4 linked regions of the Homo sapiens genome follow. The protein of the gene in region 2 purifies or fractionates together with the protein of the main gene of each other region. This does not show direct contact. Each region holds a gene or a part of one and is shown on either strand. Other genes may lie near its edges.

Region 1 (7,027 bases), on a different chromosome or scaffold from region 2:
CAACTGTGGTCACCAATGCCGGCTTTCTTTTGGTTGACCAAAAATGTGTCCTTGGTTCCCTCTTTCGCCTTTCTGGGACTGCATTCTTCCATCTGAGTCAACAAGGGGGAGAGATTCGAGGAACTGAATAAAAGGTCTTTCTTTGGGCACTTCAAGGAACATATTTTGATAATTATCTTCTGCAGGGTTCACAGAGTGGGTTTTCAAAACAGCCAATTGGATCGGTAAAAATAAAGATTTCAGAGTCTTCTCTGGAGCCAATGCTATATTTAAAGTGCAGAATAGCTATTAGTTTAAGGTTGGAGAACGCTATAAGTAAGGTTGCAAAATTGTTTTCATTAGAGCCCTTCCGCCACTACCCCCTCTCCACAGGCTTCCTTTGTGGGTTTGTCTGTAATCGGTTGGGAATCCGCCTGCCCGCTCAGGTCTCAAGACACAGGTCCTTTCCCTTCAAATCTTCTTGCTCAACAAGTTGTCCTTTTCTGCTTCCGTGGCTCTGCCAGTTTCTCTCCTCCAGCACTCGCCCCTTTTTTGGTCCCCATCCTCAAGCTCCTGCATCCCTAAAGCCACATCTGCTGCTCTGAGACAGGCTTCCCTCCCGGTTCCTGCTACCTCCACCTGAATCCCTTTGGCTGCCTCCCACCCTGTTCTTGGTAACCACAGAGGTTGTGGGTAAATCCCTGCTTTATCCTAAATCCCCTTTATCCTAAACAACTTTCTTGCCCTCAACTTTTCTAACTTGGACCCTATTCCAGGTGGTGCAATTCTTCATTAGATGAGCACGGCCCACTCTGCACAGACATTCAGCATCCTGGCCTTGCCCGCTAAAGGCCAATAGCAATCCCTGGTCATTGTGACAACCCCGAATGCCCACCCATTTCTAAATACCTGCTCGCAGGCTGGTGCTGCCTCTAGTTGAGACAAGAACCTAGGCTACTCACTCAATGCAACAGACTCCCCCCATTACTTACACACTGATCTCCTCTCTGTCCACAGCACCAACCCCCCCGACTCCCCTGAACCCCATGAATTCAGAGGGATGGGAGGGGTGGGAATCACTGGCTTTCTTTTCTTTTCTTTTTTTGTTTCTTTTTATAGACAAGGTCTTGCTCTATTGGCCAGGCTGGAGTGCTGTGGTGCGATCATGGCTCAGTGCCGCCTAGACCTCCCGGGTTCAAACGATCCTCCCACCTCAGCCTCCTAAGTAGCTGAGGCTACAGGTGTGTGCCATCACACCCAGCTAATCTTGCTTATTTTTTGTAGAGACAAGATCTCACTATGTTGCCCAGGCTGGTCTCAAATTCCTGGCCTGAAGTGATCCTCCTCCCTGGGTCTCCCAAAGTGCTGGGATTACTGGCATGAGCCACCATGCCTGGCCAGGAATCACCAGTTCTCTTGATCCCCGTTGTCACCCCTGATCCTGCAAATCCTACCCTGTCTCGCATGGGCACCCCACTTCCCTCCTCTGAGTTTCATGTTCCTTATGCGTAAATGGTGGGGAGATCGTCCGCTTCAATGAGCTGCTGTGAAAATCCAATGAGACGTATATGAAAAGTACCTGGTACATCGTAAATGCTTAATAAATAGTAGTAGCAGCCACTTTTATTAGGATTATTTTTCTATCCTATTCCAATTAATGCTGCCATTTATTGCCATCTCCCAACCCCCATCACTCCCAGGACCAATTTCCAACTTACAAGAAATCAGTGTTTCAAAACATATCCTATGGGACACTAGTCCCAAATTATTCTTTGTGAAAAAGGATTATTTGATCAAGTAAGTGTGGAAAACATGGCATACTCTATCGCCATCTTAGAGATTCACATTCACATAGTAAGCATTTTGAAAAGTCCTGCCAAAAAAAATAATAAGCCCATTTAAATCTGTGTTTAACTCCACGTTTCTCAGACTTATTTGGTCATGGAACTTCCTGCAGATCTTGAAAAATAAATGTATCTTTTAATTCTGGGACCTATGTTCAGAGGCAGAGGGACTCTGACTTTAGGGAACACTGTTCTGGACAATGACATCACCTGGATTGGATGAATTCTTCATTCTGTCTCCTGCCATCAACTTGAATGGAAGCAGCTTTTCTGTTGAAACTCAGGGCTCTGGACATGGGATTTACTGTCTCATCTCTACACATCCTGCCTGCCCTCTGGAGCTTAAGGCTTATTGCTGTTCCATCTGCTTGATCTCAAGCCCCTTGCCTTCTTCATCCCCAATGCACTCAGCCTTTCCTCGCTCTCCTTCCTCCAAGTTCTCATTCGCCCTGACCTCCAAGCCCAGCCCAGTCCCCAAGGGTTGAGTTCTGCCCCATGGAGCCTGTAGTTCTCTCTCCTGGCCATGGTCCCTTCCATCCTCAGCCTGCTTTCTTCGAATTGCACTAGAGAAGCCTGGAGCTGCAGGAGAGTGTCAGAGGGGGGCATGCATTTGGCTTCAGCCAAGTCCTGCCATCTGGATCCTCACTTCCCATTCCTGGGTTCCTCCTCAGGTCAGCCCACCTCATTCCCCAAAGATGAGCTCACCCCCTCCTTTTCTGAAAGGATCAAGACCATGAGGTTCCAACTTCTTTCTTTATCATCCACTAACTCTGTCCAGATGCCTACACTTCAAACCCAGTCTGGGGGAGGGATGGGGAAAGAGGCCTTCTCGTGCATTCTGAGTAGCCTGGCACCCTCTGTCAATACTGCAAGGGCGAGTGCCCTTTGACTCAGTAATCCTCCTTCTAGGAACTTCATGTTAAGAGAATAATTACACAATTAGGCCAAGGTGTATGTGTAAAGGTGATCACTGCATGCTATGATAAATCTGAGGGAAAATGCAAATAGCTAAAATGCCCATCTCCAGGGGATTGGTTACATAAATGCTCGTAGAGTCTTACTATGGGATGTTATGAAACCATTTTTTAAAAATACTGCAAGCTGGGTGCAGTGGCTCACGCCTGTAATCCCAGCATTTTGGGAGGCTAAGGCAGGAGGATCACTTGAGCCCAAGAGTTTGAGATCAGCCTGGGGAACAGGGTGAAACCTCATCTCTACAAAAAATACAAAAATTAGCTGGGCATGGTGGCATGCATCTGTAGTCCCAGTTACTTGGGAGGCTGAGGTAGGACAATTGCTTGAGCCTAAGAGGTTGAGGCTGCAGTGAGCCATGATAGTGCCACTACCCTCCAGCTTGGGCAACAGAGCAAGACTCTGTCTCAAGCAAAGAAACAAACAAACAAAAACAAAAGCAACAACTAAAAACCAGCACTAAGAACAAAAACGCTAAGTAATCGGGAGGCTGAGGAGGGAGGATTGCTTGAGGTCGGGAGCTTGAGACCAGCCTGGGCAACATAGCGAGACTTCATCTCTACAAATAATACAAAAATTAGCTGGGCATGGTGGCACCTGCTTATAGTCCCAGCTACTTGGGAGGCTGGGAGGATCCTTGAGCCCAGGAGGTCAAGGCTGCAGTAACCTACAATGGTACCACTGCACTCCAGCCTGGGCACAGAGTGAGACTATGTCTCAAAGTAAAATAAAATAAAAATAAAAATAACATGGATAGTGTAATCTTATCTACATGAAAAAAATCTGTGCAAACATACACAGAATGATTTCTGAAGAATGTTCATCTACATTTTGTCATTTATTATCTCTACAGGGCAGGAGTTCACGTGAGTGAATGTTTTTCCTTTTTGGAATTTTTTGATTTTTAAAAAAATAATAAATGTGTTATAAAAAGGTTAAATGCAGCTGCTCGTAATGCAGAGTCTATGTCTGTAACCATCTTTTCTCCTTCCCTTGCCTCCCGATAAAGAGATTCTTTCTTCTCAAAGCAAGTCTCCCTCAATTCCACCGCTCTGTCCCCAAGTCCCCCCATGCCTCTTCTGTCCCTCCCCCTCCCAATGAGCACGGGCCATCCCTGCCTTGAAATCCTTTGAGCTGGGCCCTGCCTCCCACTCTAAGGACACAGCTCCTCCTGCGCCTTTGCTTCTGATCCACTCAGCCCCTCTGGCCCTTGCAACCTGGCCTTCTCTGATCCATGAATCCTGAGCTAACTCTGCTGATCAGCAGTCAACGCGGTGGGTCATTTCCTCCCCCTTGGAACTTTCTCCTCTCAATTTCCATGACATTACCATCATGGTTCTCTGCCTGTGTCCTGGACTGCTCCTCTTGGCTCCTTTACAAGCTCATTTTCTTCCTCCCACTCTCTAAAAGTAGAGGTTTCTCAACATGGGCTAAGGCCACGAGAGAATATCTCCAGGGGCAAGTGGCAAATAGGCCTTCTCCTGACAAACCCTCCCAGGTCTCTCCAATGTCAACCAGACACAACCGCGTGTCCTTTATGGAGCACTCAGGTCCTTTCTGGCTTAGGGCTCCCTCAACTGCAGGCCATCTCTCTCCCCCACCACCAAACACTCTTCCCCCAGGACCTGCTGTCCAACTTTTCCCAGCACTCCTTCCTGCCCTCTTCACTGACCCCATCCAACTCCTCCCCACCCTTCAGCTCCTCCCTGAAGCCTTTCTGAACTGCCCAACTTGAAATGCTCCCTTTCTCTCCCGGGATTCCCATCCAATCTCCCGTATATGCCGTGCATTTGTTCTTTTGTGGCATCTGCCTGGATGATTCGGTTCTCGTCTCAGGTGTGCACGTCTTATTTCTGCTGGGAGGGCAGAAAGCACCCAGGCTTGCCTTCCAACTAGCGTGCTTCCTCCCTAAAAACAGGAACTCCATACATGTTGGCTGACTGAAAAGTGTGGGCTGGGGCAACAACTCAGAATAACCCATTTTTTAGCTTGGGTTCAGGTGAAGGGGAAGGTGTCTCATCTGAACCATGAAGAAGGTGCCTGCAGGTCTCCACCTGGAGACACTGAGGACACCGATGGAAATACAGCTGTGAAGCCCAGAGAGGCAAATCTGGTGCCGTCAGATTTGCCAGCTCCCACATGTCACATCTTCGAGGCTGGGAGAGATTGTTCAGGGAACGGGTGCCAGCAAGAACCAGGAGCCTGTCTGTGGCTGAAACCGAGGACGCATTTCGAAGAACAGCAGCAAAGAAGGAAAGCCAGGAAAAGAGCCCAGCCCACCCCCAAACTCTCTCGCTGGGAACTCCCTTAAGACACTTATCACTGTTAGTCTTTTTTTGAGTGACTTGGGCACAAATCCTATGTGTCCTAGTAAAGAGTAAGCTCCCTGAGAGAAAGGGCAGCATCTGAGCTCTTTGTAGCTTCCTCAGTCCTTAGACATATATAGACATACAGAGCCGGGCACCTGGCAGTCGCCCCATCGCTGTTTGTTGAATACAGGCATCTTTCTGCATGTTTACGGAATGCCTGCGTGAGGTTCTGACGATACCATGGTACAGTACAGATGTGCACACTGAACAGACTTAGTGGACACCCCCTAAGTGCCAGAAACAGACAGAGACCCCACTGTCATGAAACTTACACTCTGATGCCATCCCATGGGATCATCTGGTCCACCTGGATGAGGGGACTGACCCCAGGGAGTACCAGGGACTTCATCCCAGTGATAAAGCTGGCCTATGACAGGGCTGGGCCTGACCTTGGGACTCAGTGCTCTACACACACACACACACACACACACACACACACAATCACTAAATTATACATGATCAAACATGGGCAGTGCATGTATGAGAGCCATGCCCAGCTATGCCACCCTGTACATCAATTCTAACACCCAGAACAGCTGCCTGTCCTTCACGGAAACTGCCAAGCTATCCATCAACCTAGCCTACTGAGAAACAGAAGGCTTTTTCCTCGCTCTCGATGAGCCTTGGGACCTGAGTCTTCAGTTATTAGGCTTACCCCCAGCTAGAGGGCAAAGTGACTGTTTTGGCTGGGGGTGGGAGTGGGGCCGATGTTTGAGGATTTGGAGCCGAACTCCAACATCTGAGCCGCTGGGCTCCCTGGACCCCTCAGTTAGGCTGTCTGGTGGCTCTTTTCACCTTCACCACATCAGCTCCTTTTCTTCTAGCCCTGGCTCCTTCCCGTGCCCCTGGGGAATGAGGTCAGGCTTTCTGGGGCCCCCAGCCTGGCCGCTCATGAGTGGAGATCCTCTCCTCTCGGCCAGAGGAGCGGTGCAGGGCGGATTCCTCCTGGGATTGCATCGCTGTGTTTTCACAGCCCCTCCTCTCCCCACTTCCACCCTTTGCCTAAATGAAGTGGGCACTGCTCTCTGATTCTGGAAGGAGGGGTTGTTTCTCCCACGCCTGAGGAACAGAGGGCTGCCCCCTGCCCTGGCCACCGCAGTCAAGCAGAAGTCTCTCGGGGCAAAGAGGCCACAAGGTGGGCCCGCTTCCAGCCACCTCACCACTGAGTCACTTCCGCTCCCCAAGTGGTGCTCAGGCGCAGAGCTCTTGGGCCTCAGGGACCACCCAGGAGGACAACGGGGCCGAAGAGGGCAGATGATGGGGCCGGGACTAAAGCCCATGTCTTCGACTCTCAAATCAGTCTTCACGGTGCACCAGCCTGTGTCTTGGGCATCTTGGGGGTGGGTCACTCTTACTGGAAGTGTGGAAACAACCCCACAGGTGGCTGCTAATGGCTTGGACAAGCCAGTGGGAAGCTCCAAGGTGGGCCTATCACCAAGGGGCTGGTGGCACCTGAGTGTCCCCTTAGGGCTGCGTGTGAGAGGGGCCAGGTGCCAGCTTGGATCAAAAGAGGCAGCGGCCTGGGAGGCCCTGTCAGCTGGCCGTGGGGCAGGAGGGGCCTCGGGTGGAAATGGCTTGGCTGGCAGAGTGGGCCCTGGCACTCGGCCACCGGTGGGCTGGGCAGCCCGACTAGCGTGTTTTCTTGATCACCTTCCCCACCATCACCGGTTCTCCATACAACATCACATCACATCACGTGTTTGTTTTGAGCAGGGCATGATCCTTTGCCAACAGATGTAATTCGAAGTTTGGTGTGGCCTCTGGAGGAGCACGGGAAGGGTTCTCTGGAAGGGGCTGCCTGCCCTACTCTGCCGGGCACTTTACTTTTTCCACTCGAGTGAGAAAAATCCTGGTTCTTTACAC
Region 2 (7,421 bases):
TGCTGAAAGTGACAAAAATATTTTTAGTAACTGAAGGTAAAATATTCAAAATTACATATATTCAAATCTCTTCAAGCAAGTGAACTGAATACTATTATTTTAGGGAAGAATTTCGCATCAGAAATAAAAGCAAAACACTACAAATATAAGCATCAAGTTAATCAAAATTATAAAATAAAGCAGAAACTGTCTTATTAACTGCTGAGTTATCAGCAGTTGGCACAATGCCATCTGCAATACTCAATAAAGTTATTAAATGTTACCATTACTACAAATAAACATGTGGGCAACAATCAGAGTTCTTTAATCTTCATATTATTCGTGTGAAATCATTAATTGTATTAAAAAATTAAACCATCAACTATAACCAATTAATAGGAATTAAGATTTTGCACCTCCTTACTAAAGTAAACTGTTTAATTCTAACTCCCTACTCAGTTACCTCCATCCAACAATAATTACTGAATGCTCAGCAGGTGCAATTTGTTTTAGAGCTAGTCTGAAGTCAAAATTTGTTCCAATTTTTTCTTTGAAGACAAATATGGCTTTGAAAAGCAGATCAAGTGAATAAAGCACTTTAGAGTCTAGTTTAATTTTTAAGTCTTTAATGTTTAAAATGTAAAATATTCTGTTTCATAAGTTAGTTGATAAGAATTTTGGGTACCTAAAATTCTTTTTTGTCATAGAAGCAACAGTGATCTTATAAATAATATAGAATAGATTTTCAATATTTTTAGATACGTATACCAATAAAATTATCTATTATTCTTTCATATATTTATTCAGGAATCAAAGCATCTGTGATAAGAAAATAATCTCAGAGAATCACCCAATATTTATACATAAATCCCACTCCACCTCCCATCTCCACAAAACCTTCAAATACAAACACTTCTTAGCTATCATTCTCCTTACTAGTTAATACCCATGACACTTCAGAGATTGTCATTTATTTACCTTCTGCAATCTCTCTGAATTTTGCTTCAGCATCCGGGCTCTTATTTTTGTCAGGGTGGTACTTCATGGCCAACTTGTGAAAGGCCTTCTTGATTTGGCGCTCTGATGCCGATTTTGGCACACCTAAGATATCATAGTAGCTTTTTGAGGCCAGAATTAATTCTGTTATCATTAAAATGCAGATTGCAAAGATGAAAATTGACTGGGGAGTAGCCATTTCTAATATCCTAAAACAGAAAAGAAAAAAAAATGTTATGGATGGAGCTAATCTTAAAACGTTTTTCTTTTAAAAGAAATCCAACACAAGGTAAACCTAATGCAGTATCAAAATAGTAAGCATACAGTATCTATTACCTGTCCACATGTAATTTCACTTTTAGTTTTATAACTCTCAAACTGGCTTAACCTTATTGAGAACAAAAATAATTCTTGGCTTTGTCTGTCTACTAATACTCTGGCCATACACAGAGGAGATAGAAAATTATCAATAACTGACTTTTAACCAGTTTATATTGAAGATTCATCATATGCAAGCATTGTAAGAAAAAAAAAGAAAACCAAATAATATAAGATCCCAACTTTCCTTTCAAGACTTCATATCCTGAAAGTAATAATGTATTTAACTTCACAGAAAAAAAAAACATTAAAAAAAAAAGGTGGCGCACCAAGGTAAATAGCCCAGTATATCTAAATTAGTATTATTAATCTCGCTCCAAAAATTCAGCTTTCATTTCAGCAGGTGAGCCAAGGACTGCAAATAGAGAATCTTAATATCACAATACTAATACTGACAATACAATAGAATGTTGTCTTTTTCCCAAATGTAAGATCCCAAATGTTTAACCAGGAAGCATGGCTAAATATTGTTTAAAACTCATGATGAACAGAATTTAAGATTTCTGCTAAAGCTGCCAGAAAAATGAACTTTGATAGTTTGTACTGTGGTTAAGGCAGATTCTTACTTTCACAAACTCAGTAGTTAAAATATTTCTTTTACCTTTAAACCATTAAAGAAATGTTAACTTAGAATTCTTGACAATATGTATTCAATGACTTGAGATTCAAAACGAAGGGATGGATCCTGTTTTTTGAATACGGGACCACCAGAGTCCTTAGTAACCTATAATGCCATAATAAGGCTGACGAAAAACACTACGGTTTGTGGAAATTGCCTGGCTTCCTCTCCAGCGGCCTTTCCTGAGAGTAATTAGCAGGCAGGTAGATTACTTATTTCCAGAGAGTTACTCGTAGTCACGGGTACCAAGAATCAAGAACCACTTCTCGGTTTAAGGAACACAACAGTGTGTCCCATGGACGCTGCGTCAACTGCAGGTTGCTCCCTAGTCAAAGGGCGGATCTAAAACTGACAGGGAGGCGCCTCACTGGTTCAGCAGACGTTATTCCACGGTCTCAAGGTGGACATCTAATGATTTTTTTTTAGCAGACTAGTTTTGTATTGTACAGACTTCTCATCCCCAAGACGGCCCCGCCAGCCAGCAGCCCGTGCCTTATTCCCCAGCCTCGGTGGGCGGCTGGGCTAGACCCTCCAACCTTCACCTAAAGGCGACTGGCACTTTCCCTGCCCGCCCAGGCCCCGCCGCAGAAGCTGCCCGAGACCCGGGCTCTAATCCGGCGCCCGTGAAAGCCGGCGCCACAACCCAAAACACGATTCTGTGATGCGGCTGTCTCCGTTCTTCCATTCTCTCGGCCAAAAACATGCAGCCCATTGTCCCTGCGGCGACCGTGGCGGACACCGAGGCCAAGTCAGCTCACAAAGACAGGCCTGGGCTACGGGGACCCTCCGAACTCCCCTCCCCACGACCCCGGCCTCGTCCCTCACCTGCACCCTCCGACTACTGCTGCTCCTCCACAGAGCTGAGGCGCTGGCGACCCTGACGATCGGCTCGGGTCGGCAGCTTGGGCCCGGCCCCTCACCGCGGCCTCCCGGAGCTGGCACGCACCCTAATCTCGGTCGTACACCGACCTAGCGCTCCTCCTTCCCCGCCGGCGCCCAGTCCCCTCTCAGCCAGCTCCTCACAGGCAGGAGGTAGCCGCTGGCGCCACCACCTCAGAAGACCTACACGAAACGCTTCCCCATTGGCTTCTGCCTCCCCACGTGATCCCGGCGCCCTACGCGCACGTGGAAAACTGTTGTTGCTGCTAGGGCTGTGCGCCACTTCCGGCTTCAACCCCCGAAAAGGCGGTGCTTAAACCGGAGGAGGCGGAAGTGAGTCGACAGACGAGGCGGCTTTCCCGGCAGAATGCTAGCGCAGGCGCAGGGGCTCGAGAGGCCTGGACCTGTGGCGCATCCTCAGTGAGGAGGGCCGCCCTGCATCCGTCGCCGGCCCCGGTCTCCAGGGGCCTCACCCGAGTCATGCCCCGCTATTGCGCAGCGATTTGTTGTAAGAACCGCCGGGGACGAAACAATAAAGACCGGAAGCTGAGTTTTTATCCGTAAGTTGTTTCTGGAGCAGAAGCGTCAGCCTCGCCGTGAGGCCTTGGACCTGTGGCCTTTGGGCTTGGGTGTCTCCTGTCCGCTCTGCCAGTGAGTCCTCAGCTCTCCGTACGTGGCCCGTCGCCCGCGGCAAGACGGAGGGAAGGCGCTAGTTCAGTTTAGCTAGCAATGCCCTTCTTGCGCGAGGACTGCTGGCTGGTGGCGAGGCCCAGGAGCCTGTTTGGGTGTTAACAGTTAAAACAGTAAAGTTTGCGCGGGCTTCTGTGGTTTTCAGTCTTTTCCCCACTTCACGTGATCTCATTTCATTGAACAACATTAACCACCATTTAAGATACGTGAAACCTGCGAAGTGGAAAGGTGCACGCAAAGTTAATTTACACCCCCCGCGAGGTAGGTCGCATAGGTATAATTTCATCCCACTTTTCTCCTGAGGAAACTGAGGCCCGGAATGATTAGGTAACCGACCTTGAAAGTTTAGTGTCAGAGCCAGAATTATAAACTAGTCTTCTGCTTAGGGCTGTAGATACTCTGCGGAGAACAAGGTTTTATTCTGTTACTCTGAATTACTAGAGCCACGATATATTTCCATCAAACTACTGAAGCACTGATTTTTATTCAGAAGTACAGACAAGCAGTGTCGTATAATAATTAGGGGTCCAGGCTTCAATGCTAGATCCTGGTTCCACTATTCTGTAGCTTAATGACCTCTTGGAAAGTATTTAAGCTTTGGTGTCTCACATATCTCATCTGTAACATGGAGATGTTAATAGTACTCACATGATTAATAACACATGAAAAGCAACATATTTAAAATACTGCATTTCCATTTTTTCTTGTATTTAAAAACAATTCATTTAGATCTAACCTGGTTCAGATTTTCAGCAGTTGTTTTGTGCTCATTTTACTTTAGACCTGAAGGACTTATTCATTAATGATTCGGCTGCTTTCCAGTATTTTAATTAATGGAAAAAAAATTGATAACCCCACCAGGCGCGGTGGCTCACGCCTGTAATCCCAGCACTTTGGGAGGCTGAGGCGGGCAGATCACCTGAGGTCGGCAGTCTGAGACCAGCCTGACCAACATGGAGAAACCCCGTCTGTACTAAAAATACAAAATTAGCTGCGCGTGGCGGCGCATGCCTGTGATCTCAGCTGCTCGGGAGGCTGAGGCAGGTGAATCGCTTGAACCTGGGAGGTGGAGGTTGAGGTGAGCCGAGATCACACCATTGCACCACAGCCTGAGCAACAAGAGCGAAACTCCGTCTCAAAAGAAAAAAAAACTGATAACCCCAAGTAATTCACAATCCATGGCAATATTTCCAGGATTGTCTCCCTTGAAGCCCAGCCTCAAGATGCAAAGAGATGTTTGGGGGAGGAAAACAATCTAATCCACTTTCAGTTTATAGGGAAATACTACTGTACTAATGGCTCTATCTCTGAGAATGTTTGTAGCAAAAGATCATGTTGAACTTGATTTAACCCCGTATTTCCCAGATTTATTTGGCCTTTGATATTGGAGATGGGGTATAACCCCACACTGAAATTTTTAACTAAACTTTGTGGACCTTACAGTAACTTTTTAGGAAGGAAAAAATAATGCAAGTGAATTGTAAAGATTTTTTTCACTGAAAATGTGAATTTAGTAAAAGTTGTATTATTTCTAGGGTTTTTAAAAAATTTTCTTGTGTAATCCACAAAATAAAAATTGAATTAGTTTTATTCTCCAGTAGCGTCAAACTTGAATTGAATTTGCTCATGTTAACACTACAGCAAACTGTAGTTTAAATGTATATGAATTTGGGAATTCAGTTAATATAGTGTCCAGTTTGTACTGTGATTATCTTATGCCTTTTGGGGAATTACATAAGACAATGAAACAAAATTATCAAATGAATTGAACCAATATAAAGACATAATTTATTCAGGAAACATGATCAAGATTTCTTAGAGATTTACCTATTGAAGCAATACAATCCAGTAAACAATAAGGATATTCACAAAGTTTTTTTTAATGAGTTGATAACTTAGCATATAGGTACAATGGAAATAATTTGCAAACAGCATCCATATACATGAATTTACAGTAAAAAGCATTATTGTAAAAGGCCTATTCTCATTTCAGTTGTAACAAAAGAAATGAATTTACCAATGGCCAGAAGAAGTCAGGTCCTCTAAAAGAAAATTTGTCTGCCTTTAAAATTCCTTTTCTGGTTATGCTTGTCATACTTACAACCTAATATTTGTAAAGTTAAAATATTTTTAAAACATGATTAATATTGCTTCTGTGGTTGGAATTTCCAAAGGTAGTTTATCTGATTTTTTTCCGTATGAGGATATCAGGATTAAAAGTTATATCTTACAGAGTACCCAGACTTTCCATGGCATCTTAAAAAGTTACCAGAATTTAGGGGGAAAAAATGATGCTACTACAAAACATAAGCTAAATGATTGGGATTGCGGGAAGGGAGTGTATAACAGCTACATTTTATATGAGAAACCTTATATTGTTACTATTTTTAAAAACAGGAAATTATGTGGTGTCTTGGACTCTGTTCTTGGAAAAGTACCAAATGGAATATAAACCATTTTCAAATATTGTTTTGTATACCTTGACCCAAACCTTTTTAGATTGATAGGAAAAATTTTCTATCAAATTCTGCCATACACTGTAATGTTAGCACCAACTTTAAATCCAGGTTATTGTCAGGTACAGGAACAAAATGTATACAGCGCTGTCTTGCCATTTGTATTTGATTTGTTTCATATAAAATATCTGAGACTGTCCCTTTTAACATGTTCCATTCTTTTCTTCTATCAGTTTCTCCTTCAGAACTTGAAATTTGGAGTTCCCAGTTCATTGGTTATAGAAGTGTAGTACTATTAGACTAGATTACTTATAGATAGAATTAAAGATGATGCTAGTAAAGAGAATATTTTCAGTACTTTTTCAGCTAAATCATTTGTTTGAAATAACATCTTATTTTTTAAATATTAAATAAGATTGTAAAGCTTAATACTGCCTTGAATTATAGACAACAAGCCATTTGACATGTGGTGGTATTATGAAATACATTTGAATAGGAATTTATAATTTATACAAACCTTTTTTCTAGTTCTAGGCAAACTGTACAGCAATATAAAAATGGAACATAATCCATAGAAAATACAAATAGATTTTGTCCTTTATAGGAACACATATATTTTACTTGAAGGGACTCTGAATTATGTTCAGCTCTTATCAGATAAGAGCCTTGGCTACATGTCTTACATCTTAGGCCTCTTACTGCAGAGATGATAATGGTACTAGTTGTCATGAAGATGCTCTTATTTGGTAGGGATGGTTGCCTTCCTCTTGTAGTACTTACTTGATGCATAGGTTACCCAGATATATAGGGTGGGAATTTGGCAAAATTGTAAAAATATAGCAAAGTTTTTCCTTTTTTCTTCTTTTTTTTTTAAATTCCAGATTTCCTCTACATGACAAAGAAAGACTGGAAAAGTGGTTAAAGAATATGAAGCGAGATTCATGGGTTCCCAGTAAATACCAGTTTCTATGTAGTGACCATTTTACTCCTGACTCTCTTGACATCAGATGGGGTATTCGATATTTAAAACAAACTGCAGTTCCAACAATATTTTCTTTGCCTGAAGACAATCAGGTATTGCAGTATGGGAGAGGGGTAATGCTGAGCAGAGTGGCAGATTTCAGGGTGGCAGGTGATCAGGTGGGAGAGTAAGAGGGAACTATAACTTGGGTAAACAGATACTTGGAAAAAAGGGAGCACTAATTTGTGCTTTTACTAAAAGTGATAATTAAAAAAAATTAAACTCATGAAGCACAGCTTAAGAGAAGCAAGAGATATACATTATTAAGTTATTAACACAAGTTCATGAGTTTTATTTTTTATACTTTTTTTGTTTGAGACAAGGTCTCATTCTGTCACCCTGGCTAGAGTGCAGTGGTGCGATCTCAGCTCACTGCAACCTCTGCCTCCTGGGTTCAAGCCAT
Region 3 (7,027 bases), on a different chromosome or scaffold from region 2:
CATCCTTAGCAAACTAACACAGTAACTGAAAAACAAATACTGACTGCATGTTCTCACTTGTAAGTGGGAGCCAAATGATGAGAACTCATGAACATAAAGAAAGGAACAACAGACACTGGGGTCTACTTAAGAGAGGGAGGTGAGGAGGAGGGCAATTAGCAGAAAAGATGACTATTGGGTACTGAGCTTGATACCTGGGTGATGTAGTAATATGTACAACAAACCCTGTGACACATGTTATCTATGTAGCAAACCTACACACGTATCCCCAAACCTAAAATAATTTTTTAAAAAAAGGAATAACCAGGAAAAAAAAAAGAATACTAAAGCCCTCCCCGTCATAGTGTAAATAATGAATAATTACAAAATGAAACTTTCCTCCTGAAAATTAGCTTTAACTATGTTATATCATAGGAAATAATATTAATAATTCCAAAGTAAAAAAAAAAAAAAAAAGTCAGAGTGTCTTCCTACCTCCAAATGACTGCACCACCTGCCAAAGAATGGTTCTTAACCAGGCTGAAATTATAGACATAGAATTCAGAATCTGGATGGCAAGGAGAATCATCAAGATTCAGGAGAAAGCTGAAACCCAATCCAAGGAATCTAAGGAATCCAATAAAATAATACAAGAACTTAAAGATGAAATAGTCATTTTAAGAAGGAACCAAACTGATCTGATAGAGATGAAAAACTAAAAGAATTTCATAATACAATCAGAAGTGCTGAGAAAAGAATAGACAAAACTGAGGAAAGAATCTCAAAGTTCAAAGACCAATTCTTCGAATGAACTCAATCAGACAAAAATAAAGGCAAACGAATAAAAAGAATGAACAAAATCTCCAAAAAACATGGGATTATGTAAACAGACCAAACATATGACACATTGGCATCCCTGAAAGAGAGAGACATGAGAAAGCAACTTAGAAAACATAATTAAAAATTATGAAAATTTCCCTAACCTCACTGGGGAGGTAGACATTCAAATTCAGAAACTGCAGAGAACCCCTGTAAGATGCTATTCAAGACAACCATGCTGAAGACAAATAGTCTTCAGATTCTCCATGGTCAAAGTGAAAGAAAAAATCTTAAAGGGAGCTAAAAAGAAGGGAGAGGTCACCTACAAAGGGAACCCCATCAGGCTAACAGCTGACCTTTCAGCAGAAACCCTACAAGCCAGAAAAGACTGGGGACCTTTATTCAGCATTCTTAAAGAAAGGAAATTCTAACCAAGAATTTCATATCTAGCCAAACTTTGCTTCATAAGTAAAAGAGAAATAAAATCCTTTTCAGATAAGCAAATACTAAGGGAATTCACTACCACCAGACCTGCCTTATAAGAGGTCCTTACGGAAGCACTAAATATGAAATTGAAAGGCCATTACTGGCCACCACAAAAACAAACACACTTAAGTACACAGACCATTGACACCATAAAGCAACTACAAAATTAAGTCTACATAACAAGCAGATAACAGCATAACAGGATCAAATGTTCACATATCAATACTGACTCTGAATGTAAATGGACTAACTACACCACTTAAGAGACACAGAGTGGCAATTTGAATAAAGAAACATGACCTAACTACATACTATCTTCAACAGACCCCTCTCACATGCAATGACACCCACAGACTCAGAGTAAGGGATAGAGAAAAATCTATCAAGCAAACAGAAAACAAAAAAGAGACAGATTGCTCTTTTAATTTGAGACAAAACAGACTTGAAAGCAACAATAATCAAAAAGGACTAAGAAGGGCATTAAATAATGATAAAGGGTTCAATTCAACATGAAAACTTTAACTACCCTAAATATACATGCATCCAACATTGGAGCACCCAGATTCATAAAATAAGTTCTTAGAGACCTACAAAGAGACTTAGATAACCACACGATAATAGTGGAAGACCTCACCTTGACACCCACTGACAGTACTAGACAGACCATCAAGGCACAAAACTAACAAAGATATTCAGGACCTAAACTTGACATTTGACCAAATGGCCCTAACAGATATCTACAGAACACTGCACTCAACTACAACAGAATATACATTCTTCTTATCTGCACATGACACATACTGTAATATTGACCACACACTCAGCCATAAAGGAATTCTCAACAGATTCAAAAAAAAAAAAAAAAAACTGAAATTATACCACATTCTTAACCACAGTACAAGAATAGATCTCTCAAAATCATATAATTATGTGGAAATTAAACAATCTGTTCCTGAATGACTTTGGGTAAACAATGAAATTAAGACAGAATTCAATAAATTTTTTGAAACTAATGAAAAGGAAGAAATGACATACCAGATTCTCTGAGACAGAGCTAAAGCAGTCTTCAAAGGAAAGTATATAGCACTAAACACCTACATCAAGTAGTTAGAAAGATCTCAAATTAACAACCTAAAATCACACCTAGAGCAACCAAAAAAAAAAAAAGTAAACTAACCCCAAAGCTAGCAGAAGAAAAAACCAAAATCAGAGCTGACTGAACAAAACTAAGACATGAAAAACTATACAAAAGGTCAATGAAACCAAAACGTCGTTCTCTGAAAGAATAAATAAGATTGACAGACCACTAGCTAGACAAATAAAGAAAAAAGGAAAGAAGTCCAAATAAACACAATCAGAAATGACAAAGTGAACATTACAACTGACCCCACAGAAATAAAAAAAAAAAACTCTCAGAGACTATTAGGAACACCTCTACCTACACAAACTAGAAATCTTAGAGAAAAATGGATAAGTTCCTCAAAACATACAACCTCCCAAGATTGAATCAGAAGGAAATTGAAACCCTGAACAGACCAATAGTGAATTTCAAAATTGATCAGTAATAAAAAGCCTACACCCAGAAGAAGTCCTGGAAAAGATAGATTGACAGCCAAATTCCACCCAACATATAAAGAAGAGCTGAAACCAACCCTACTAAACTATTCCAAAAAATGAGAAGGGACTCCTCGTCAAATCATTCTATGAAGCTAGCATCATTCTGATACCATAACTTTGTAGAAACACAACGAAAAAAGAAAACTTTAGACCAATATCCCTGATGAATATAGATGTAAAAATCCTCAACAAACACTAGCACACCAAAACCAGCAGCACATCAAAAACCTAATCTACCATGATCAAAATGGCTTTATTCCTGTTATACAAGGTTGGGTCAACATATGTAAATCAGTAAATGTGATTCAACACATAAACAAACCTAAAAACAAAAACCATATGATCATCTCAATAGGTGCAGAAAAGGCTTTTGATAAAATTTAACATGTGTTAAAAATTTTCAACAAACTAGACATTGAAGGAACATACCTTAAATAAAAAGAGCCAGTTATGACAAATCCACAGCAAACATCATACTAAATAGGCAAAAGCTAGAGACATTTCCCTTGAAAACCGGAACAAGACAAGCATGCCCACTCTCACCACAACTATTCAACATAGTACTGGAAATTTCAGCCAAAGCAATTAGGCAAGAGAAACAAATGAAAGGCATCCAAATTAAAAGGAAGTCATACTATCTCTGTTCACAGATGATATGATTCTACACTTATAAAACCCCATGCTCTCTACCCAATGGTTCCTAGATCTGATAAACAACTTCTGCAAAGTTTCAGGATACTAAATCAATGTCAAAAAAATCAGTAGCATTTCAGCAATAACGTCCAAGCTGAGAGCCAAATCAAGAATGCAATCCCATTCACAATAGCCACAAAAGAAATAAAATACCTAGGCATACAGCTCAACAGGGAGGTGAAAGAGCTCTACGATGAGAATTACAAAATGTTGCTGAAGAAATCGGAAACAACACAAATGGAAAGATATTCCTTACTCATGGATAGGAAGAATCAATATTATTTAAATGGCCATGCTGCTCAAAGTAATTTACAGATTCAATGCTACTCCTATCAAGCTACCAATGACATTTTTCACAGAACTAGAAAAAATATCTAACATTCATATGGAACTGAAAAATAGCCTGAATACCCAAAACCATCCTAAGCAAAAAGAAAAAAGCCAGAGGTATCACACTATCTGACTTCAAACTATACTACCAGGCTACAGTAACCAAAACAGCATGGTACTGGAAAAAAAAAAAAAACAGACACATAAAACAATGGAACAGAATAGAGAACCCAAAAATAAAGCCACACACCTAAAACCATCTGATCTTTAACAAAGTCAACAATAAGTAATGGGAAAAGGACTCCCTATTCAATAAAGAGTGCTGGGATAACTGCCTAGCCATATGCAGAAGATTGAAACTGAACCCTTTCCTTTTACCATACACAAAAATCCATTCAAGATGGATTAAAGACTTACATGTAAAGCCTTAAACTATAAAAACTCTAAAAGAAAATCTAGGCAATACCATTCTGAATCTAGGCCCTGGCAAAGATTTCATATGAAGACTCCAAAAGCAACTGCAACAAAAACAAAAATTGAAAAGAAAGACCTAATTAAACTAAAGAGCCTCTACACAGCAAAAGAAACTATCAACACAGTAAACAGACAACCTACAGAATGGGAGAAAAAAATTCGCAAACTATGCATCCTACAAAGGTCCCATAGCCAGGATCTATAAGGAACTTAAACAAATTAAAAAGCAAAAAAACCCATAAAAAATGGGCAAAGGACATGAACAGACAATTCTCAAAACAAGATATACACATGGACAACAAACATATGAAAAAATGCTCAACATCACTGAGCTTTAGAGAAATGCAAATCAAAACCAAAATAAGAACCATCTCACAACAGTTGGAAGGGCTATTGTTAAAAAGTCAAAAAATAACAGCTGCTGATGAGGTTGTGGAGAAAACTGAATGCTTATACAGTGGTGGGGGGAATGTAAATTTCAGCCACTGTGGAAAGCAGTTTGGAAATTTCTAAAGAACCTAAAACAGAAAGAACTGCCATTCAACTCAGCAATCCCATTCCTGGGTACCTACCCAAAGGAATATAAATCATTCTAATAAAAAGACAACATGTACTCATATGTCCATCGCAGCACTATTCAAAAAAGCAAAGACATGGAATCAACCTACATACCCATCAACAGTGGACTGAACAAAGAAAATGTGGCACATATACACCACGGAACACCACACAGCCATAAAAAAGAATAAAATCATGTCCTTTACAGCAACATGGATGGAGCTTCACATTATCCTATGTGAATCAATGCAGAAAAAAAAAAAAAAAAAAAAAACAAATACCACATGTTCTCACTTATACATGAAAGCTAAACATTAAGTATACATGGAGAAAGAAGGAAACAATACACAATGGGGTCTACTTCAGGGTGGAGGTTGGGAAGAGGATGAGAATTGAAAAACTACCTATCGGGTCACTGCACATGTACCCCCTGAACTAAAATAAAAGTTGGAAAGGAATAAAAGTTTAAAAATGAAATAAAAACTACTCCTTTAGCAATTTCCAAGTAAAACATAAATAATCTGATATGAAGAAATGCTTTGCTTTGATGGTCTTCACAGTGTTATTTTCTCTGAAGCAAAAATTATCTCAATTACGTATATTACAAAAGAGATCATTTCCTCCAAATGGAGACAACAAACAATATTAGAGAAAGCAGCATAGCACTTCTGTCTCTAATTTCTCTGTAACTTAGCTGTGAAACCTTGAGTCAGTCATCTGCCATCTCATCTGCAGTAAATTAATCAATTTTAATTTGCCAAGGAGTTACAAGTAAAATTGTCATACAATTTTTCATTCATTAAACTAAAGCAAAGTAATTGATTTAAATGAGCTTTATAACTGAAATAGCTCAACGTAGCACCCCCAAGAGTATCTAATAAATTATGACAGTGTACAAAACATTCAATAGTTAAAAAAAAAAAAAAAAAGACGTTGTTACCTTGAACTTATAGGCAATTGGACATTCTGGATTATTAAAAATGCCCTTCCTTCTTAACAGATTATATTTTAAAAATTTTTTACAGTTTTGGACATTGTTAAATTATACACTCAAATTACTCAGTTGAACTCATTATGAATAGAAATTATGTGGCACATGATCTGAACAACTTCGCTTACTCCTATAGAACTGTATACAGTGCACACCTTCCAAACACTCACTGTTGAGCTGTATGGACTAACATACATTATTTGATATACAGTAGATCTTACTGGATTACTCAGGGCCAACTGTCTCAATTCCGAACCACATACTGAGATGAAGCTGGTGATTTGCACTCCCTCATTCTACCCTCCATCCCATGCCAATCTGTAGAGCATAGCTCTATATTACTTTTTTTCACTTTGATTCTGGGTCCCCTCTCCTCTGCTGTCAGTTCTGGGGCTCATGATCCATCACTATTACTGATCTTTGCCACTCTCCATCTAGTGAAATCAAACTGCTACACTGATATCTAACACATCTTTTCTGTTTCTTCATCATTTTTTGGCTCTTCTGGTACCTGCTCTTCTCAGCAAGAACCAGAACACGTCTTTTCTGTTTCTTCATCCTGTTTGGCTCTTCTGGTCCCCGCTCTTCTCAGCTACAAAACAAACGACATCTACTACACAGGCACAGTCAGCCATTTAATATACTCCTTTTCTTCTAATTAAAAAGAAAAAAAAATCAAAACAGGCCAGGATAGTCTTTGGCTTTCTGAACTGTTTTCATGGCAATTTGAACCAAAAGGTTCATTTATTATTATAGAAGATGGTGTATTTTTTTTTTTAATTTCTAAGTTTGGAGTTACTACAGATACCTGGTCAACAGACAAGTTGAGAGTTTTTACAATTACAGGATTAAAGAGTTAAAATGCAATAAAAGTCATGGTGGCTGCCTTCTTAACCCTTAAAAACTCCACCAAATAAATCTCCAAAAATTTTTATTAAATCATATCTTAAAATAAATTCATAGAACTCCAAAAATATATACCAGTGGTCAAAAAGGACATGAAAAGATGCTTAACATCACCAATCATTAGGGAAGTGCAAATTAAAACCACAGAGAGATACTACTTTACACCCATCAGGA
Region 4 (7,027 bases), on a different chromosome or scaffold from region 2:
CTATAAGTGAATGTATAAATTATTCACTTTCTTACTCCTGACATTAGATATGGATATTTTAAACCCCCTTCTACCACTTCCTCCAACATGTTCTAAAGAATACAGATTAAAAATATTTTTTAAACCCAGAATTATGTCAAATACGGGGGAAAGGCATAGAAAACAAATTTGCATACTATGTTTAGGAACAAGCTTCTTAGGTCAAAATGTCAATAGTGGGAGTTGCATATCATTACTGATACATCTTGCTGCAGTGAAATAAATGCTTTTGAAAAATCCTGTTTTTTGAGCCATGCCAAAATATGTTTGGCAGAACTGAGCTTGTTTTGGTCAATGCTTTCAAATTAACAGGACTCTTAAAAAGACCAGATGTTTCTGCTTGAACCGTAACTGATTTCTTGTACCCCTAGTGCGTATTTGTACTCAAACTCTCTTGCAGTTTTCCCCAAAGAAGTAAACAACTTGGTTGGAAGTTCAACCTAGTTAACATATAGTTAAACTCTTCATCCCAATAGAAATGCAGAACTCAGTGTTCTGAAAATCCCAGGATTGTTTTATTTCTAAACAGCATCTTAGAGAAAGTCCTTGTTCTTCATTTTTTTTTCCTTCCTCATTATTATTATTAGAGTAAATCTTATAATTTCTTGGATGTTTCTACTGGAGTTGATAAGACAAAAGAAATAAATCTAATAAACCATTTCATAGTTATGCAAACTTTCTATTTATTAAACATTTTTTGTTACTATAGCCACTTGGAGCATGGAGCATTTTTAAACAGACCCATATCAGCATCTCAGCTAGGGTTGGACTTTTATGTTGTCCACAAAATGCAATGTAAATTGGCATTTTAAAACCCACTTTCAAATAGGACGCAGATGCAAGCACTGAATTTTCATTTGATTAATGATTAAACATTTTGGTTTTTAGTTAGATATAATTTTGCCAATTTAATTATAGGGTAATGTCTGTAATAAAAACAAATATGTAATCTGATAAAGGAAGTCATATTGAGCAACTTGAAATGCTTAAAACAGCAATACTACAGTGCAGTCCACTTCTCTTAGCCTATGTGGAAACACTAACTCATTAAAATCCTATCAGTCTGATTCTTCAACTTGCTTCTCAGAGACCTGAGCAAAAGAATTTTGGTGACGGCAGGGAAATTAGATTCTACTGTGTGCTATATACCTTGGACCCCTGGAAGGTTTTACCCACCTCTGGGTGTTGTAAGTAGCCTGGCTTTGTACAACTGGGAAGACTTGCTTTTCCTGATTTCCATACTGTAATGTACAAAGGTTAGAAGACGAGCTCCCTCTTGAAGCCCAAGTTTTCCCAAGTTGAGACAAATTCTCTACTCTTGGTTACTACAGTTGTTGAACATTGAAAATAAATTCTCCTAAAATCCACATGTCTACACACCAATAAGTAAATTAGGCAGAATACATACTCACTTTTTCATCAACTAGGTGTGCAGCAGGCAGATAAAAATGGGTGTGTATTTATGCTGTAGTCTCCGACAAAAGAGTATGCTTGCTTAGAATTAGGTAAAATGTCCGTTTACCTGAAATAATTGCCACTTTTGGGTAGCCAGATGGTGAGCGCACCCGTGTTCAAAGTAGGGTACCTTAATTTAGATCCAGATGGTTGAATTGAAAGGGAAATATAGCCAAGATAAAGAACATTTTGTTCACTTTCAAAAGGGAGACTGTTTTTCTTTGACAAACTTTAATAGGGTCTATAACATGCCAAAGTGAGACGACATTAAAAATATGAGGTCCTTTTCTATAAAGGATTGTTTAGAGAGAAACTATAGTCTCCAAGTAAAATGGGAAAATAATAGTGGTAGTTCTCAAAGAGAATTGGGACCATCCTTTTGCAAAAATCTTGGGGAGAGAATGGAGGATTTTATCTCTGGGTAGGCATTTGCTCTACTGTGGTATTTGTGTGATCTGATGCCTTGTAATTTACTCAGAATGAATTAATACTCATGGTATTTAATACAAACAAGAAATTCACTACATTATTTTTAGATCGAAAGCAACTTCATTTCTCCCATTCACTTCGGTAAGAAGATAGCTTAACATGAGCAAGTAGGAGTATATTGCTTTTTGTCCCTCTATAGAGGACTGTGAACTGAAAAAAATCTTTGAGAACCATTTGTTTCTGTAAAAACTTTTTTCTGTGATTCCTTAATGGACTTAGCTCATTGTTTTTGTGTCAGGCTCACATAACCATATGGCAAAACTGAGTTCAGTGCTGGATTTTGAACACAATTCAAAATGCCACCAGTAAACCGTATCTAGACAATGTTTACTAAAAAAAAAGCTCTGACCATGTAATAATGACTCACTCAGGGAGAAAATCTATGCAATTGGTGTTTGTCTTTCTGTGTTTCCTGTAGTGCCATTTGATTTGATCACCCTGGATAATAATTAAATATACAGTTTTTTCAAATTAATTGACATAAAATTGTGTATATTTATCTTGTATAATCTAATGTTTTGAAGTATGCATACATTTGGAACAAATGTAGTTAATTAACAAATGCATCATCTCATATAGCTATTTTTGTGGTGAGAATGTTTAACATCTACTCTCAGCAGTTTTCAAGAATATAATATATTGTCATTAATTATAGTCACCTTGCTTTACAATAAGTCCCTTGAACTTATTCCTTTTTTCTAAGTAATTATATATCCTTTGACCAGTAACTCCTCAACTCCATTCTTCCCCTAACCTCTTATTATCTGGTAAACATTATTCTACTCTCTAATTCAGTGAGGTCAACTTTTTTAGTTTCCACATATTACTGAGATCATGCAATATTTGTCTTTTTGTGCCTGGCTTATTCACTTACATGAAGTCTTCCAGTTCATCCATGTTGTCTCAAATGACAGGATTTCCTTCTGTTTATGGCTGAATGGTATTTCATTAGTGTATGTATACATTTTCTTTATCCATCCATTCATTGATGAACTCTTAGGTTGGTTCTGTATCTCGGCTACTGTGAATAATGCTGCAATAAACATGTTGCAGATATCTCCTCAACATGATGATTTCTTTTTCTTTGGATATATAATCCACCAGTAGTGGGATTGCCAGATCATATGGTAGTTCTATTTTTAATTTTTTGATGAACCTCCATACTGTTTTCCATAATGGCTGTACTAATTTATAGTGTACTCATTTTCACCAACAGTGTACAAGGGTTCTTTTTGCTGCACATCCTTGCTAACAGTTGTTATCTTTTGTCTATTTGATAATAGCCATTCTTACAGGTGTGAGTTGACATCTCACTGTGGTTGCATTTCCCTGATGATAAGTCATGTTGAACATTTTTCATATACCGGTTGGCCATTTGTATGTCTTATTTTGAGAAATTTTCATTCAGGTCTTTTGCCCACTTTAAAAAATCAGATTTTGTTTTTTCTTGCTATTGAGTTGTTTGATTTCATTATATGTTTTGGTCATTAATCACTTATCAGATGTACAGACTGCGAATATTTTCTCCCATTCTATAGGTTGTCTTTTTACTTTACTGTTTATTGTCTTTGCTGTGCAGAAACATTTTAGTTTGATGCAATCCCGTTTGTCTATTTTTTGCTTTTGTTGCCTGTGCAGTTGCCTTTGTTTTTATTTATTCAATGCAACTCCAAACTGAGCCTATCTGCTTCGGATCCCTTTCAAATAAAGATGGACCTGATACTGGCTTTCCCAGTATTTGTTTGGTTTGCACAACATGTTTGTTTATTTAAACTGATTGTTGCCACTGTGTATGTGGATGGGCTTGAGCAAACAATGCAGGACATGTTTTAGGTGTGCTTGAGGGTGGTGACATTTGGTCAATATGATTTACAAAAATGGGACTTACCTCTGTAAGTATGACTTCAAGGAGTGATACAAAAACAGTGAGGAAGAAATAATTTACCTTTAAGGCATAAATGCTTTACGGTCTTTAAGGAGGGCATCCCTCCTTCACCCCCAATGCTCATCCTCCCAACCCCTAGCAATCATAATCTTCATCATCACCATCATCATCATCATCATTTCTCAATTCTTTGCATGTTCTTTACTGCCTTCCAGATTTACATTACTGGCCAGCTTCTACCAGGGTTTTTCAAAGTTCATGCCATCCTACTTTCTACTACAGGAGACTGCATACTTTCTCCCACAGATAGAATTTTACTAGGCAGAATTTTGGAAAATTCAAACGTGAAAAATACTTCCTGCTTTTTCCAGTTTCCTGGACAACCTAAAATGATGCACAAACAGGCACAGCTGTATGGTGGTGGTGGCAGTGTGAGGGTAGAATAAGATTGGCAGTGTTGCATGGAGCTGAATAAGGGTGAAGAACCCAGGCTCACCCTTCCTGCCTTCTTTGCCTCCAAGCTTCTGAATGCCTGGGTGGACCTGACATTTATAGAACTGTGGCCCCAGTTGTACAGGGACAGGGTGAATTAATTCCTCCCAGTGCACACCTATGTGTGTGCTGCAGGATGAAGTTTTGTTTTAATCATTCACATCTTTCCTCATGACTACACAACTAAAAAAAGAAAAATCAGAGGATAGACAAAGAAAGTAGTTCAAAAACTGTGGTTGTTGGTTACTTTTTACATCTTTTAAAAATAGATTATTTTTAAAAATCTTATATCTTTTAAAAAATAGTTCACTTTTGTTGTGTCGCTGGATGGAAAAGTGTGTGTGTATGTGTTTAGTGTGTTCATTCTCTTCCTCCTATGCAGGGACTGTGGAACCAGACTGCTTGGCCTCATATCCTGACTCTGCCACTTATTAGCTTTAAGACCTTGGCCAGATTTCCTAATTGCTGTGTGTCTAGTGTCCTCATCTGGAAAGTGGAGATAATGATATTCTATTGTACAGGGTTGTTGTGATGATTACATCAGTAATAAAGCACTTAGAACAGTGTCTGATAATTGGTAAGCACATCTGTGGTTATTAAATATAATTTTATTATTCCATGGCTGGAGATCTGCTACTTGGGCTAGTACCAGTTTGTGTAGGACCAACGTTCTTGCTTTGGGGTTTCCCCTTGCTGGCAAAACAGTGGGGAAATGGTCACCGTGGACATCCCTTTGGCTGCTGTTTGTTTTTACCACCTAAGCAGAGTTCAAAAGACAGGGAATGGGAAAAGAAGGTGGGAAGGAAGAAGAGGAGCCTGGTCACCAGAAAAAAAAGAAGGAAAAGAAAGGTTGTGGTATTTCAGCCAGAGAATCTCCCAGCTTGGATCAAATACTGGGAGATGGAGAGGGTTGAGGGAGCAGAAAGACTGAGGGAAACAAGAGAAACACACAAGTCTCTGATTACAGCACTGCTGTCTATTAGCAGTGAGAATAGCAGGAACCAGATAGCAGGAACCAGAGACTGAAGAGTCAGAAGGGTACCAGTACAGCAAGAAGAAAAGCCTTAAGTACCAAGGGAAAGGCGTCTCAATCATTAGATATTGTTCCTAAGACTTTATGTGGTTTTGACAACAGCAGTACTTTATAATACTTCCGTAATATTTTGCCTCTTTCCAATAAAAAAACGTGAATCTCAGACACGAATTTTATTTATTTTTATGAAAACCTAATATTATGACCTGGGAAAGTCATTTTAATGCATTCATAATACCCTTCAACAATGATGATCAAGTACGCAGTACTTATTTTTGGTAAGCATATTTAGTACATAAATGGTGAAACAATTATGAATATTATGCTCTGTTTTTATAACACGATTATTCACATATGCACCACTTCCTACATACATATTGCTGGCATTATTGCCTTATGTTTTTAGTTTACTCCAATGGTTATTTAAAAAAAATAGACTACACACTTGCTTATAGTATTGAATATTCAGCAGGAGTACTTCTCTTCTGAAATAGCAGAGGTTTAATGACTCATTGAAGTGCATAAAAACACACAGTCTAAACAACGACCCATTTTGCCTTAAAGAATTTAGTCATCGAGTAACAATTTGCATTTTGGATTAACAATTTTAAATGGGACACGTGTAACTTCCATGACCTTGTAACAGTCCGCTTACTGCAATCAGTTGAATAGTAACTAGATGTTCCATTGAAACTTTTCTTTAGGTCTTGGGAGTTTTTATTACCAATCTTAAACTACTGCAATATTAGAGAAATTGCAGTTGCTATAGAAGTAGGTTCAAAATCATTTTGCACTGTGTTATGCAGAGATGTGGCCAAAAAGAAAACCTTTCAAGTCATCCATGCTGTTTGTGAGATTCTCTTGGTTTTGGCGGATTCCACAGTGAAATGCCATGAATCAATCTGAATACTAACAGTGTTATGCAAATGTTTGTTTCCTCTGCATGTCTTACCTTTATGAAAAGGCAAACTGAAAAATAATGGAGCAGAAATTGTTTTGTATCACATACTGTAATTTGTTGGCAATATCAACCAACATTAATGCATTACTTCTGCTGAATGTTATCATAATGACTTGATACAAGTAGCTTGCCTAGTGAACTTCCGCAGAAATAAGAAGAAATCAATTCTCTATATCCTTCAGAGGCAACATGGAGCTTTAAGCCTTCCTTCTTAGCTCAACCAAAATGTCAAATAGACAAGTTGTTAAGAAAATAAAGTAATTTATTTTAGATAGAAGAGAATTAAAATACATGTATGCTATTCACATTTTTCCAGTTATGCTAAAATGACATTCTACGAATCACACTCCCAGAATGTCACTTTTGAAAGTGGAATTTTTTATGGTAATAGACAGATTCATTAAAAGATAAAAATGATTTTGTTTAGGAAAGCAGGAGAATAACAGACAACAAAATACTTGTCCCCATTACCTTCTGCCTTTTGCTGTTTTGTTTTACTTTTTGCTATATTTACATATATTTTTTCATGTCCACATTATAATTGAAATATTTCGATTTTTAATTAATTTTTTATATTTATTATACTTGGTATTCTGCTTACCACCTCAAACTCACCACAAATTCACTCCAAACTTGTTATTTTTTTCTCAAAATCACCGTTGCTATGGGACTC

Evidence for each region.
Region 1: the proteins of DNAJB9 (region 2) and SCARA3 purify together in Homo sapiens (affinity purification with mass spectrometry; 3 studies listed by BioGRID and IntAct, with this or other methods). This does not show direct contact.
Region 3: the proteins of DNAJB9 (region 2) and ARB2A purify together in Homo sapiens (co-immunoprecipitation; 2 studies listed by BioGRID and IntAct, with this or other methods). This does not show direct contact.
Region 4: the proteins of DNAJB9 (region 2) and TRHDE purify together in Homo sapiens (affinity purification with mass spectrometry; 2 studies listed by BioGRID and IntAct, with this or other methods). This does not show direct contact.

Annotation. Positions count from the first base shown.
Region 1 is NC_000008.11:27,636,892-27,643,918, reverse strand, and holds part of SCARA3 (scavenger receptor class A member 3), read right to left. Parts: intron 1-7,027. UniProt on the Homo sapiens protein: Seems to protect cells by scavenging oxidative molecules or harmful products of oxidation.
Region 2 is NC_000007.14:108,565,480-108,572,900, reverse strand, and holds the start of DNAJB9 (dnaJ homolog subfamily B member 9 precursor), read right to left. Parts: upstream 3,028-7,421; 5' UTR 2,798-3,027; intron 1,185-2,797; 5' UTR 1,175-1,184; coding exon 958-1,174; intron 3-957; coding exon 1-2. Other genes in the region: THAP5 (THAP domain-containing protein 5), read left to right, coding at 3,332-3,411, 6,879-7,071. UniProt on the Homo sapiens protein: Co-chaperone for Hsp70 protein HSPA5/BiP that acts as a key repressor of the ERN1/IRE1-mediated unfolded protein response (UPR).
Region 3 is NC_000005.10:94,101,663-94,108,689, forward strand, and holds part of ARB2A (cotranscriptional regulator ARB2A isoform 1 precursor), read right to left. Parts: intron 1-7,027. UniProt on the Homo sapiens protein: Plays a role in the regulation of alternative splicing, by interacting with AGO2 and CHD7. Seems to be required for stabilizing protein-protein interactions at the chromatin-spliceosome interface. May have hydrolase activity.
Region 4 is NC_000012.12:72,275,370-72,282,396, forward strand, and holds part of TRHDE (thyrotropin-releasing hormone-degrading ectoenzyme), read left to right. Parts: intron 1-7,027. UniProt on the Homo sapiens protein: Specific inactivation of TRH after its release.